3 separate regions of the Homo sapiens genome follow, and all the other regions are reported to be linked to region 3. Evidence: microRNA targets listed by miRTarBase, many of them from high-throughput screens and not tested one by one. Region 3 holds a microRNA gene; each other region holds the end of a gene's coding sequence.
The links. The annotated mature microRNA hsa-miR-548k reads AAAAGUACUUGCGGAUUUUGCU and lies in region 3 at 2,547-2,568, opposite strand. An mRNA with a match to its seed (bases 2 to 7 or 8) in the 3' UTR can be bound and repressed. Matches are read on the target gene's strand: a 7mer-m8 pairs with bases 2 to 8, a 7mer-A1 pairs with bases 2 to 7 and ends in A, and an 8mer does both.

Region 1 (4,054 bases), not on the chromosome of region 3:
GTTGCAGTAAGCTGAGATTGTGCCACCGCACTCCAGCCTGGGGGATAGAGCAAGCTTCTTTCCCCAAAAAATAAATAAATAAATAAATAATCAGTCTGGTTACAGTGTGGGGATATAGGATGGAGGGGACAGAGTTGAGGCAGGGAGAGACCAATGGGGGTCATGGCAGTCACCTAAACAAGAACTGGTGGCCTGGACTGAGTTGGTGGCAGTGGAGTTCGGTTGAAGTTGGCAGTGTGACCGCTAAGTTAAATCCACAGAACTTGCTCAGGAAAAAGGACAGGTCGAGAATAACTCATAGGTTTTCAGTTTGGGCAGTTGACACAATGCTGCTGTGTCTTTTGGTAGGATGGGGAAACCTGGGGTGGTGGAGTGAACAACGGCCACCCAGAGAGAGCAGGTCCTAATTCCTAGAGCCTGGAAATGTCACCTTCTATGGAAGAGATCTGTAGGAGTGATCAGGGGAAGGATTTGGAGAGAAGGTTATCCTGGATTATCTGGGCAGGTCCTGCATGGCATCACAAGTATCCCTATAAGAGAGAGGCAGAGGAAGGCCTCTCTTATAGGGAGAAGCGCAGTGGGTCACACCTGTAATCCCAGCACTTTGGGAGACTGAGGCTGGTGGATCCCTTGAGCCCAGGAGTTCACAACCAGCCTAGCCAACATGGTGAAACCACGTCTCTACTAAAAATACAAAAATTTGCTGAGTGCACGCCTGTAATCCCAGCTACTCAGGGGGCTAAGTTAAGGGAATTGCTTGAACCTGGGAAGTGGCGGTTGCAGTGAGCCGAGATCACACCACTGCACTCCAGCCTGGGCAACAGAGTGAGACTCTGTCTCAAAAAACAAAAAATAAGAGAGAAGCAGAGGAAGATTAGACCGGCACATACAGAAAAGGCCACGTGAAGATGGAGGCAGAGATTGGAATGATGCGGTCACAGGCCAGGAAACACCAGGGCATGGCAGCCACCACCTGAAGCTGAAGAGGAAAGGGGCAGGTTTTCCCCGACAGTCTCCAGAGGGAGCGCGGCCTTGCCATCATCGTGATCTTGGACATCTGGCCTTCAGAACCATGAGAGATTAAATTTGTTTGAAGCCACCAAGTTTGTGGTCATTTGTTACAGTAGCCACAGGACACCACAGCCACAGGATAAATCTCAGGGATGGGGGAGTAGGAAGATCATGAGCGCGGTTTTGGACATGCCCTTGACGTCCAGGCGGAGCTGCTGAATGGCTGGAGCGCTACTGGATGTGGCCTGTAAGGGACGGGTCTCCCGGAGAGGGAACTTCTGAGTCATCCCTGTGGAAGTGATGACTGGAGCTATGGGTGTGGAGGGGTAGACAGCCAGAAGAGGAGCCTGGAGGCCCTCAGACCATAAGTGGTGAGGACGAGAGGCTGAATCCTCAAAGGAGACCGAGGAGAGGCAGGAGGAGAGGCAGGGCTGTGGGGAGGCTGAGGGTTGCTGTTCACCCCTGCTAGGCTCCCTCATGCCCTCTCACTGGTCTGTGCACCCAGTTTGACTTCCAGTGGCCCGAGCCAGCATCTTGGTTAGAAGGCTACCCCGGAGCTTCCAGGACCCACTTAGCCTATGAGTATCGTGAATCAAAGGGTTATGGGAGGCTAAGCACAGTGGCTCACACCTATAATCCCAACACTTTGGGAGGCCAAGGTGGGAGGATTGCTTGAGGCCCAGACCAGCCTGGGTAACATAGCAAGATCCCATCTCTACTAAAAATTTAAATATTAGCTGGGTATGGTAGCAGACACTTGTCGTCCCAGCTACTCAGGAGGCTGAGGCAGGAGGATCACTTGAGCCTGGGAGGTCAAGGCTGCAGTGAGCTACAGTTGCACCACTGCGCTCCAGCCTGGGTGACAGAGCAAGATCCTGTCTCTAAAAATAAAGACTCAAGGCTGGGCACGGTGGCTCACGCCTGTAATCCCAGCACTTTGGGAGGCCGAGGCAGGCGAATCATTTGAGGTCAGGAGTTCGAGACCAGCATGGTCAACATGGCAAAACCCCATCTATATTAAAAATAAAAAAATTAGCTGAGCATGGGGTGCACACCTGTAATCCCAGCTACTCGGGAGGCTGAGGCAGGAGATCACTTGAACCTGAGAGGTGTAGGTTGCAGTGAGCTGAGATCGTGCCACTGCACTCCAGCCTGGGTGACAGAGCGAGACTCCATCTCAAAAAAAAAAAAAAAAAAAGCAGACTTGAGCATAAAGTGCTGGGATTATAGGCATGAGCCACCATGCCCGGACTTTTTTTTTTCTTGTTTTCTTTTCTTTTTTTTTTGAGATGGAGTCTTGCTCTGTCACCCAGGCTGGAGTGCAGTGGAGCAATCTCAGCTCACTGCAACCTCCACCTCCCAGGTTCAAGAGATTCTTGTGCCTCAGCCTCCCGAGTAGCTGGGATTACAGGTATGTGCCACCACACCCAGCTAATTTTTGTATTTTTCATAGAGACAGGGTTTCACCATGTTGGCCAGGCTGGTCTTGATCTCCTGACCTCAAGTCATCCTTCTGCCTTGGCCTTCCAAAGTGCTGGGATTACAGGTGTAAGCTGCTGTGCCCAGGCTCTGTGCCTTCATTTAAACCCATGTCTCCTGACCAAATTGTCTCTAAGACTAAAAGAAATGTGAGAAACAAGGAGTCTCCCATAAACAGGGAGTGAGGAAGGCTTGGGAACTGCACGTGTTCGTTTGTTGGGTCTAGAACATGGATCCGCTCTCTTCCCACAATCTGCAGAGCAAGTTTCAGGCAGGGCTGATACTGCCTGCTGCGCAAGGGTGAGGACGGTAAGCAAGGGATGCCTGGTGCTCCTGGATGTTGCTTCTGGCCATTTCCCACCTCTCCCAGCTCCCACTCCTCCTGATATCCTGCCTTACATCCAGCCACCCTGAACTTCTCATAACCAGAGTCCGCACGCCACTCCCCCTTTTACAGGACTGTTCCCTCGGCTTGCCTGGCAAACTCGGGTCCTGGGCCCTTCTCAGCCATCAGGCGTGTGCCCCTCTGCCAGGCCTCCCAGACACCTGCTCCTCCTCTAGTGTTTTGTTTTCTGAGACAGGGTCTCGCTCTGTCACCCAGGCTGGATCATGCAGTAGCATGATCATGACTCACTGCAGCATCAAACTTTGGGCTCAAGCAATCCTCCCACCTCAGCCTTATGAGTAGCAGGGACTATAGGCGCATGCCACCATGCCCAACTAATTTTTTTATTTTTGTATTTTTTGTAGAGACGGGGGTGTTACTACATTGGCCAGGCTGGTCTCGAACTCCCGGCCTCCAGCAATACTCCTGCCTTGGCCTCCCAAAGTACTGGGATTGCAGGCATGAGCTACCCTCCTCTAGTATTTCTGTAGCTTGAGTGAACTTCTGCTGTTCTAGGTACCCACAGTTCACCATCTGCCTCCCCACCTGTCTGCGAGACCCTTGAAGGCAGGGACGTGACTTTCCTCTATCTTCCCCAGGCTCAGTTATAGAGCCAGCTATAGGCAGCTGCTTGGGAGGCGCTGGTTAAGCTGAATGGAGGAACCAGTGGAGCTGAGATGCCCGTGCCCGCAGCCACCAGACCCTGGCTGAGCTCTCTCCAAGGTTATTACCTGGAGGCCATGGAGTGGAACTTCTGGAAGGCAAGAGAGAGGGAGGTTAAGGCTAGAAGGTGGGAAGCCAGGGCACTGTTGGGAAGGGGAAGGCCCTGGCGGGTATGGGGATGGGACGCCTCCCTGTCCACTCACCCAGATGAACTCATGGTGGTCCTCATTTCCGAACTGTTCCAGCACACACTCGGCTTGGGCCAGCCGCTCCCGGGTTCCCTGGGCCTGCTCCAGCTGCATGTCCAGGGAGGCCACCAGGCCACGGGTGTGACCCCCTATCCCCTCCAGGCAGCGGGCCTTCTCCTCGTCCACCGGGTGGCGCAGCTCCTGGAACTCGCGGCGGATCACCCAGCTGAAGACATCCGACTCATTCTGGGACAGGGAGGGCTGCTCACTGCAGAGTCACAGCCGAGCTGCCAGGCTCTGTCTGGCTGGCCTCGGTGTCCCCAGGGCC
Region 2 (4,054 bases), not on the chromosome of region 3:
TATACCATTTCATTATCAGTAAATATAATGCTCCATGAGTTGTTAATCACAAATTACAATTGAACAATGCCTGAATAAAATCAGGCTTCAGATTTCATATTAGAATATTAGATCCTGACTTTGACCTCTGATTCTCACAAGTGCAAAATATTCCCTAATCTTTCCCCACCTTTCTGCATTCAACTGCACATCCTAGAACAATAATATTGAAGATCTATTTAATGTTTTACCTTTGCAGTGATATGTCTTGTCATTCCCTTGATGATCCGAAGAAGCATTTTGAAGGTTTAATTCTACTTGGAATATTTCCTGTTTGGTTCCTGAAATGGAGATTTTATTGCCCTTAAGTTTCCTTTGCTGCCTCTTTGGGTCCTGGGCCAGACTCACTTCTGAGTAGGTTCCTCTTTGTTTATTCATCTCTGCAGCTGTGTGATGTCAGGGACTGTGCTCTATGATAACTGCACTTAAGAAGCTATAAGTGGTGTATATTTTGACAGGATCCCTGGTATAGGCAAACTGCATGTGTTGGAGGCTGAGTAGTAATGTTCATTTTGCTGTTGACCAATATAAAAGTCTGGTACTAATTTCCTAAAGTTTTAAACTGAAATCTCTTTAAACAATAGGTCACTTTTTAAAAGGCCTTCTATATTTGACATAATATTATTAATGGGAACAATAAAAAACAATACATTTGTGAAAACTAAGAAGTAACTGAATATAAATATCTTTATTAATTTAAAATCAGATTCTACAGAAATATTTTATCACCAATAGAATACCTGTGTAAAAAACTAAAATTGAAATTTGAAAATAAAATGCACTAATTGTATGACAATTTTAAAATTCATTAATGTAAGGATTGAGCGCTAAAGATGGAGGAATAATTTGTTGGCATATAGAACAACTTTTAATACTAAAATACATTAAGTTAGTGACTTACATTCGTTTACTAAAAGGGCATGAGGTCTTGGCAAATGTTTTTTATTCTGAATGATTGAGGAAAACAGAAAAATTGTTAAAATTTTAAAGAAATATTTTATACCTTGTAAAACATTACATTAACTTATGCATAAACTAAATACTACTGAAAAAGATTTAACTCTTTATTTTACAGAATTGATTGGTAATTGATTTAATGACTAAAATAGGAAAACTGAAAATGATAAATATAAGTTTGGACCATCTATGAAAGAACACTTTAAGTTCAAACTTTCAGAAAGACCCTGTGGTTGTTTTAAAAGGCAGCGAGGGTCACTTTGGTTGTGTAAGTAATTGTAATAAATCAGAAAATATAATTTAATAATCTAGTCAATGAGCTCTGTAGCCAGTGAGACCTAAAATTAATTACAGCTTTGAAACTCATAATGCATGACCTTTACAAAGTTACTTGGTGTCTACAACACCAGTTTACTAATCTAGATTGGGGAAAATAATTTATGAAGTATAATGTATATAAAACCCTTAACATACAACCTGGCACACATTAGTCCTCAATACATATTAGATATTTTAATTATTTTTAACACAATTGCCATTTTATTATTTCTAATTCATACTGAGTGTGTAAAATAACTAATGAGGTAGGAGTCTCATGTCAGTGTAGTACATCTTTTTTGCAATGTTTGTTTGGCTCAATTTTTTTTAGGTCGTCCTATTATTTATAATTAAGTTTAGATTTGCATTTTATGGAAACTACTTCATTATTACATTCTTAAAAAAATAAAATCTGCTTCAATTAAATATAAGTATGTGTATGAGAAATTATGTTTGACATTCACAATTTGATGTATCCATTAAAAATGCATTTTTAAAGTCTGGGCTAAATATAAAGTATTATTACATCTATAATGATTATAAAATTTCAAATTAATTCTTCATTGTCGTGATATTTATCGGTTTCACTCTAAATTATATTGATTAACAAACCTATTATGATGTATGCATGTGCTTGACTAATTCTCCACAGGCAATAATGTAAATACTTTAAGAAATCCTCAAACATATATTATATTTTGGGTTGCTTTTCACCCTGAATTATTCATGTACAGACAGTTCTACTTTGATTTTATTCTGTATTAACTTTACCTTGTTGCATCACATTTAATATTTACAATTTTCTACTAAAGGAGATGAGCTAGTAGAGAAACAGGAGACTAGCAACACATACCTTCTGTCATCAGAAAGTCACACGCCCCTTAGTGGAGAGGTCAGGTTACCTCTTAACGACACAAAAGACATCTGTGATCCGGTGAAACCCCGTCTCTACTAAAAATACAAAAACTTAGCCGGGTGTGGTGGCGGGCGCCTGTAGCTGCTTGGGAGGCTGAGGCAGGAGAACGGTTGAACCCGGGAGGCGTAGCTTGCAGTGAGCTGAGATCGGGAGCCACTGCACTCCAGCCTGGGCGACAGAGCGAGACTCTGTCTCAGAAAAAAACAAAAAACAAAAAACAGATATCTCTGATCTTCACAGACTGCCCTGTGAAAGCTCAGAGTGAGGCAAGAGTGCAAAAAGCAGATTCCTCATCAATGTATCACTTCGGATTTGAACAGGAAGTTTTCACACTAGGGCCATTTTGAATCAGTTTATCTCATCATACACCTCAGAATATAAGAGACTGAGCTGCTAGGGTGTCATTTAGTTTGTCCATTTTCAAGTGACTTTTAGAAATTATTTTTATAGTAAACAAGATTTGGGGAGAACAAAGACTACTACCCATGCAGTTGTTTCCATCTCAATCACAAACACTAAAATCTTATACCTTTTTCAGAGTCTCTTACATGTTTAACTTCTACATTTACACAGGGTGGCTAAAACTTGGGATTACGTACTTCTTTATCATATACCCCTATAATATCACTGCTAATATGACGATAAATTTTTAAAATAATAATCTTACCAATAGGAATTTAATGTATTTGTCACTAATTATTCTGAGAAAATACATTTCCACTTCATTGTAATTGACATCAATTCTCAAAGTTAAATTCCCAACTTACTTTCTTGATAGTTCTTAAAATTCTCTCATTCAGTTTTTTAAAAATAAATTAATCAGATAACTCTCATTGAAATATATGTCTCTGGGAAGAATAAATAATTAAAAAATATTGTACTATATCACCACGCCAGAGATTGAAATATATAAAAACCACTCATTATATTGTTCATTGATTTATTTTCCAATCATAACGGTCTGCATTTTAATATTAATATTTGTTGTAAATGACTAATGCTTAAATCAAACTATATAGAGAGGGAAAAGTAATTTTTAAAACATCATCTAGTTAAAAATAGGGAGGGCAGAAAAAGTAGATTTTTAAAACACAAGCTAAATGGTACATGAGCACTCAGGGGCGGTGGCTTGTGTCAGTAATCCCAGCAACTTGGGAGGCCAAGATGTGTTGATTTCTTGAGCTCAGGAGTTCAAGACCAGCCTGGTCAACATGATGAAACCCCGTCTCTACAAAAAAATACGAAAATTAGCCAGCATGATGGTATTGGCCTGTAGCCAGCTACTCTGGTTGCTGAGGTGGGAGGATCGCTTGAGCCTTGGAGGTGAGGTCGAGGCTGCAGTGAGCCGAGATGAAATTTACTGAAATTGGGGAAATATACTTCATAATGATAAATTAATTTTCCAAACCATTAGTAATATATTTTTTATCATTGCATATACCTAATGATACAAGTTCAACATATAGTTGAATAAAGTGAACAAGTAAACAATCATAAATGGGATTTTTAAAGACTCTTCTCTTGATGCTTAATACAAGACAGGCCAGTGAGCCTATAGAAAGATTTAAACTAGACAAGTAACCATCACTCATATGAATGCATTCACACACATATACTCACACGGATACTCAATTTCAATGTAGTACCGCTAGCCAAGCTTGGCTAGGAGACAGTTGAAATGTAGCTATTCAAATTTAACATTAATTAATAAAAATAAATAACATTTAAAACCAGTACCTCACCACATGAGCCACATTTATAAAGGGATGAAGAACATTTCCAGTTTAATAGAAAATGTTCTAACTATATTTTACCTACAACAGA
Region 3 (4,064 bases):
TAGGGCCGGGAGCAGTGGCTCACGCCTGTAATCCCAGCACTTTGGGAGGCCAAGAAGGGCAGATCATCAGAGGTCAGGAGTTCAAGACCAGCCTGGCCAACATGGTGAAACCCCGTCTCTACAAAAATACAAAAATTAGCAGGGCGCGGTGGCATGTGCCTGTAGTCCCAGCTACTTGGGACGCTGAGGGAGGAGAATCGCTTGAACCCGGGAGGCAGAGATTGCAGCGAGCTGAGATTGTGCCCTTGTACTCCAGCCTGGGCAACAGGACGAGACTCCATCTCAAAAGAAAAGAAGAGACATAGCCACCTGACTACGTAGAAAACTACCGTTCACAGGATGGGGTACGGATGCGGGGGAAAGATGGTTTGAGCCAATATTGAATTTAAGGAGCCCAAAGCCTGCCCAAATGAAAGTACACAGCATGGCAGTCAGGTAAGGCACCTGCGAGGCACAGTGGCCAAGAGTGGAGGAGTACAGTGGGCAGCTGAAACTCCCAAGGAAAACCACCTCCCTAGTTCTGCCTACACAAACATCAACGAAAAGTGGAAAGTGCTCCCACATTACATCATCCATGCATTTAACTTGCTCAAACCGAACTATGTAAGTTTGGTTTTTTCCATTTCTCTTCATACAACGAAAAAAATGTGGGCTAAATAACCCTTTTTACCTATGGAATATTCAGCACCTAGAACGGTGCATGCCACATACAGACACTCAAAATACCTGAATACATTCATGTATACACTATATACATAAACATTATGTATACTGCATGAAAACAGTATGCATTTATGTATATGATAATTAAAAAGTACACATTGTTCTGTGCCTTATGTGATGGGTGATGTTAAGAGGTTTTTTTTTTTTTTTTGAGACAGAGTCTCACTCTGTCCCCCAGGCTGGAGTGCAGTGGTGCGATCACAGCTCATTGCAACCTCCACCTCCCAGGTTCAAGCGATTCTCCTGCCTCAGACTCCCGAGTAGCTGGGATTACAGCTGCGCACCACCACGCCCAGCTAATTTTTGTATTTTTAGTAGAGACAGGGTTTCACCATGTTGGCCAGGCTGGTCTCGAACTCCTGACCTCGTGATCTGCCCATCTCGGCCTCCCATTACAGGCATGAGCCACCGCACCCGGCAAGAGTTTTTAATTTTTGCTCACAGCACTAACTTTATAGCCCAAACCCATGCACTTGAAGTGGCTCTACTCTAACCAGTGGTTTCCACCCTAGGTCCATTCTTCCCTCCATCCCCAGCTCATTATCCACATAGCATGATCTTTTAAAAACTTGGGAGGCCAAGGAGGGAGGATCACCTGAGGTCAGGAGTTCAAGACCAGCCTGGGCAACGTGGTGAAACTCCCGTCTCTACTAAAGATTAGCCGGGCACGGTGGCGGGCGCCTGTAATCCCAGCTACTTGGGAGGCTGAGGCAGGAGAATCGCTTGAACCTGTGAGGCAGAGGTTGCAGTGAGCCGAGATCATGCCAGTGCACTACAGCTTGGGCAACAGTGTAAGACTCCATCTTAAATAAAGAAATACATAAATAAATAAAAATAAATAAATAACAACGCAGCTAAATCACATCATTCCCTCCCCTGAGGCCACGATGCACGCAAAGTACTGAAGCCCTAAGGTACTTAAAACAAAAACAAGCAAGTCTTCACCTCTGTCTGATCCCATCCCAACCTACCTAGCCAACCTTACCATGTTCACTCTTCCCTTCCCTCCAGGCCAAGTAACCATGGCCACAGACCCCAGCTTTGACTCAGCTAAATGCTAAGCTCTCCCTTGCTCTGGCCTTTGCTCAAGTAGCCCCACCGCCAAGAAAGCTCTCATACCTGGTTCCTCTTAGCCTTCATCCCTCAGCTCTAAGCCAATCCCCTCGAAAGCCTCACCTTTCTGGACCACAGTGTGCCTGGCAGCCCACCCCACTCAGTCGAGATCATGGATTTCTTCTGAACCACTTCATTCTATCTGGATGTGTCTCGCAACCTGCACCTGCTTTGAGCATGGGTATATTGTGAAAGTCTTCTGCAGGCAGAGACCCTGTCTCTACCACTGACTGCAGGAGCCTAGAACGGTAATATTCACACAGGGCTCAACAAAATAGGAGGAAGGACTCTGTCTCCTTGCTGACAATTAAAGGTGTAGGAACAGGAAGACAAGATGGCAAATTCAGTGTGTGCAAAAGAGAGATGTAAATGGCCAAATATTATTCTGAAAGGATATATTCAACTATTTCATACACCAAAGACGATGAAAACAAGTATGGTATTTTAAGAGGTGTTTTGCCAACTACTACTAAGAAACAGTCAGTAAAGCAGATGAGGGGGCACCATCTGAAGGGGCAGTCATTAGTATTTATTCTCAGGGAAGAGTCATTTAGCTAGTTTTACCTTATTCCAATTCTTCCTAATTTGTTCACTAAAGTTAAGCTTAGCAAGTACCTTGTTTGCAGCACTCAACAAATTACAGTTGTAGCCAATTTTGCATCATATTAGGTTGAAGCAAAAATAATTGCGGTTTTTGCCATTAAAAGTAAAGCAAAATCCGCAAGTACTTTTGCACCAACCTAACAGCAATACTTGAGAAAAGCTTCTGATTCTTTATACCTAAACCTGGACACTTCCAACATTTGGGGCCAGATAATTCTTTGTTGAGGGGGCTCCACTGCAGAATGTTTAGGAGCATCCCTGCCCTAGCTGTGACAACCACAAATACCTCTCAACACCACCAAACACCAGCGTCTCCTCTTTACTCTCCCCCACCCCCGTCCCCCTTCTCCCCGCAAGCTTGACCCTGGTATCTGCCACTCGGCTGTCATCCTCTAGTCCTACACAATTCCGCCAGGTTGTTCTTTTCTACTGCCCTCTGCCCTCGGATTCTAGCATCCTAGTTTGGGCTGTAACACTTCATGCCCACATTGCAGGAACTGCCTCCTAAATGGGCTGTCTTGCACCCTCTCGCCTCCTCAATCCATCCAGCACACCTTCCACTGCAACCAGCTGAAGCTCACCCATCACTTTGACAGGGAACACCCCTGACACAGGTAGACTTCTTTTTCACTAAGTTTGGATTTGATTTGAAGACCTCATTCCTTAGAATCTTCTGAGTTTTGTACCCCCTGCTTCAGGGATTGGCAGATTGGGAGAGAGACTGGCAAAATTTGGGACCTCACCTGCAATGAAAGGTGAACAGTCTCTCTTCTAGGTTTCACACAAAAGAGTTCTTCAAGCAAGAGGTCTTCTAAAAATCTCATTTGTTGCTTTCAAAAAGACTGTAAAAATCACTGCACTCCAGTTTAAAATAAAATCTCCATTTGAAAATGCAACTGAAACTTTAAAATGAAATTAGAGAGAAGCCCAAAGGCAATATTTGCTTTAAAAAAAAAAAAAAGCACTCGGTCAGTCGGTCAGGCATGATGGCTCATGCCTGTAATCCCAGCACTGTGGGAGGCTGAGGCGGGCAGATCACCTGAGGTCAGAAGTTCAAGACTAGCCTGACCAACATGGTGAAACCCCGTCTCTACTAAAAATACAAAAATCAGCCGGGCATGGTGATGCACGCCTATGGTCCCAGCTACTCAGGAGGCTGAGGCAAGAGAATCGCTTGAACCTGGGACATGGAGGTTGCAGTGAGCTGAGATCGCACCATTGCACTCCAGCCTGGGCGACAAGAGCAAAATTCCTTCTTAAAAAAAAAAAAAAAAAAAAAAAGCCAGGCACGGTGGCTCACGCCTGTAATCCCAGCACTTTGGGAGGCCAAGGCATGCAGTGGATCATGAGGTCAGGAGATCGCGACCATTCTGGCTAACATGGTGAAACCCTGTCTCTACTAAAAATACAAAACAAAAACTAGCTGGATGTAGTGGCGGGCACCTGTAGTCCCAGCTACTGGGGAGGCTGAGGCAGAAGAATGGTGTGAACCCAGGGGGTGGAGCTTGCAGTGAGCCGAGATCACGCCACTGCACTCCAGCCTGGGTGACAGAGCAAGACTCCATCTCAAAAAAAAAAAAAAAAAAAAAAAAAAAATCAGCACTCAAAAAGGAAACATACATGGG

Region 1: the mRNA of TRIM74 is a reported target of hsa-miR-548k. Seed matches in the 3' UTR shown: 7mer-m8 at 3,317-3,323.
Region 2: the mRNA of KLRC3 is a reported target of hsa-miR-548k. The part of its 3' UTR that is shown has no 7-base or 8-base seed match.

What each region holds. Positions count from the first base shown.
Region 1 is chr7:72,956,280-72,960,333 of GRCh38, forward strand. It overlaps TRIM74 (tripartite motif containing 74), which reads right to left. Exons shown (of 5, transcript NM_198853.3): 4 at 3,742-3,972; 5 at 3,206-3,629. The coding sequence ends at 3,603. It overlaps LOC124901671 (a long non-coding RNA gene), which reads left to right. Exons shown (of 2, transcript XR_007060381.1): 2 at 1-1,099. Among named protein-coding and RNA genes, the nearest start is that of TRIM74, 11 kb to the right of the region's middle.
Region 2 is chr12:10,409,159-10,413,212 of GRCh38, forward strand. It overlaps KLRC3 (killer cell lectin like receptor C3), which reads right to left. Exons shown (of 7, transcript NM_002261.3): 7 at 3,157-3,458. The coding sequence ends at 3,414. KLRC4-KLRK1 (KLRC4-KLRK1 readthrough) reads right to left here and starts at 988. Exons shown (of 13, transcript NM_001199805.1): 1 at 941-988. It overlaps KLRC4 (killer cell lectin like receptor C4), which reads right to left and starts at 599. Exons shown (of 4, transcript NM_013431.2): 1 at 231-599. The coding sequence starts at 417.
Region 3 is chr11:70,282,490-70,286,553 of GRCh38, reverse strand. MIR548K (microRNA 548k) reads right to left here and starts at 2,599; the gene lies at 2,484-2,599. The region is part of intron 2 of PPFIA1 (PPFI scaffold protein A1); the gene reads right to left.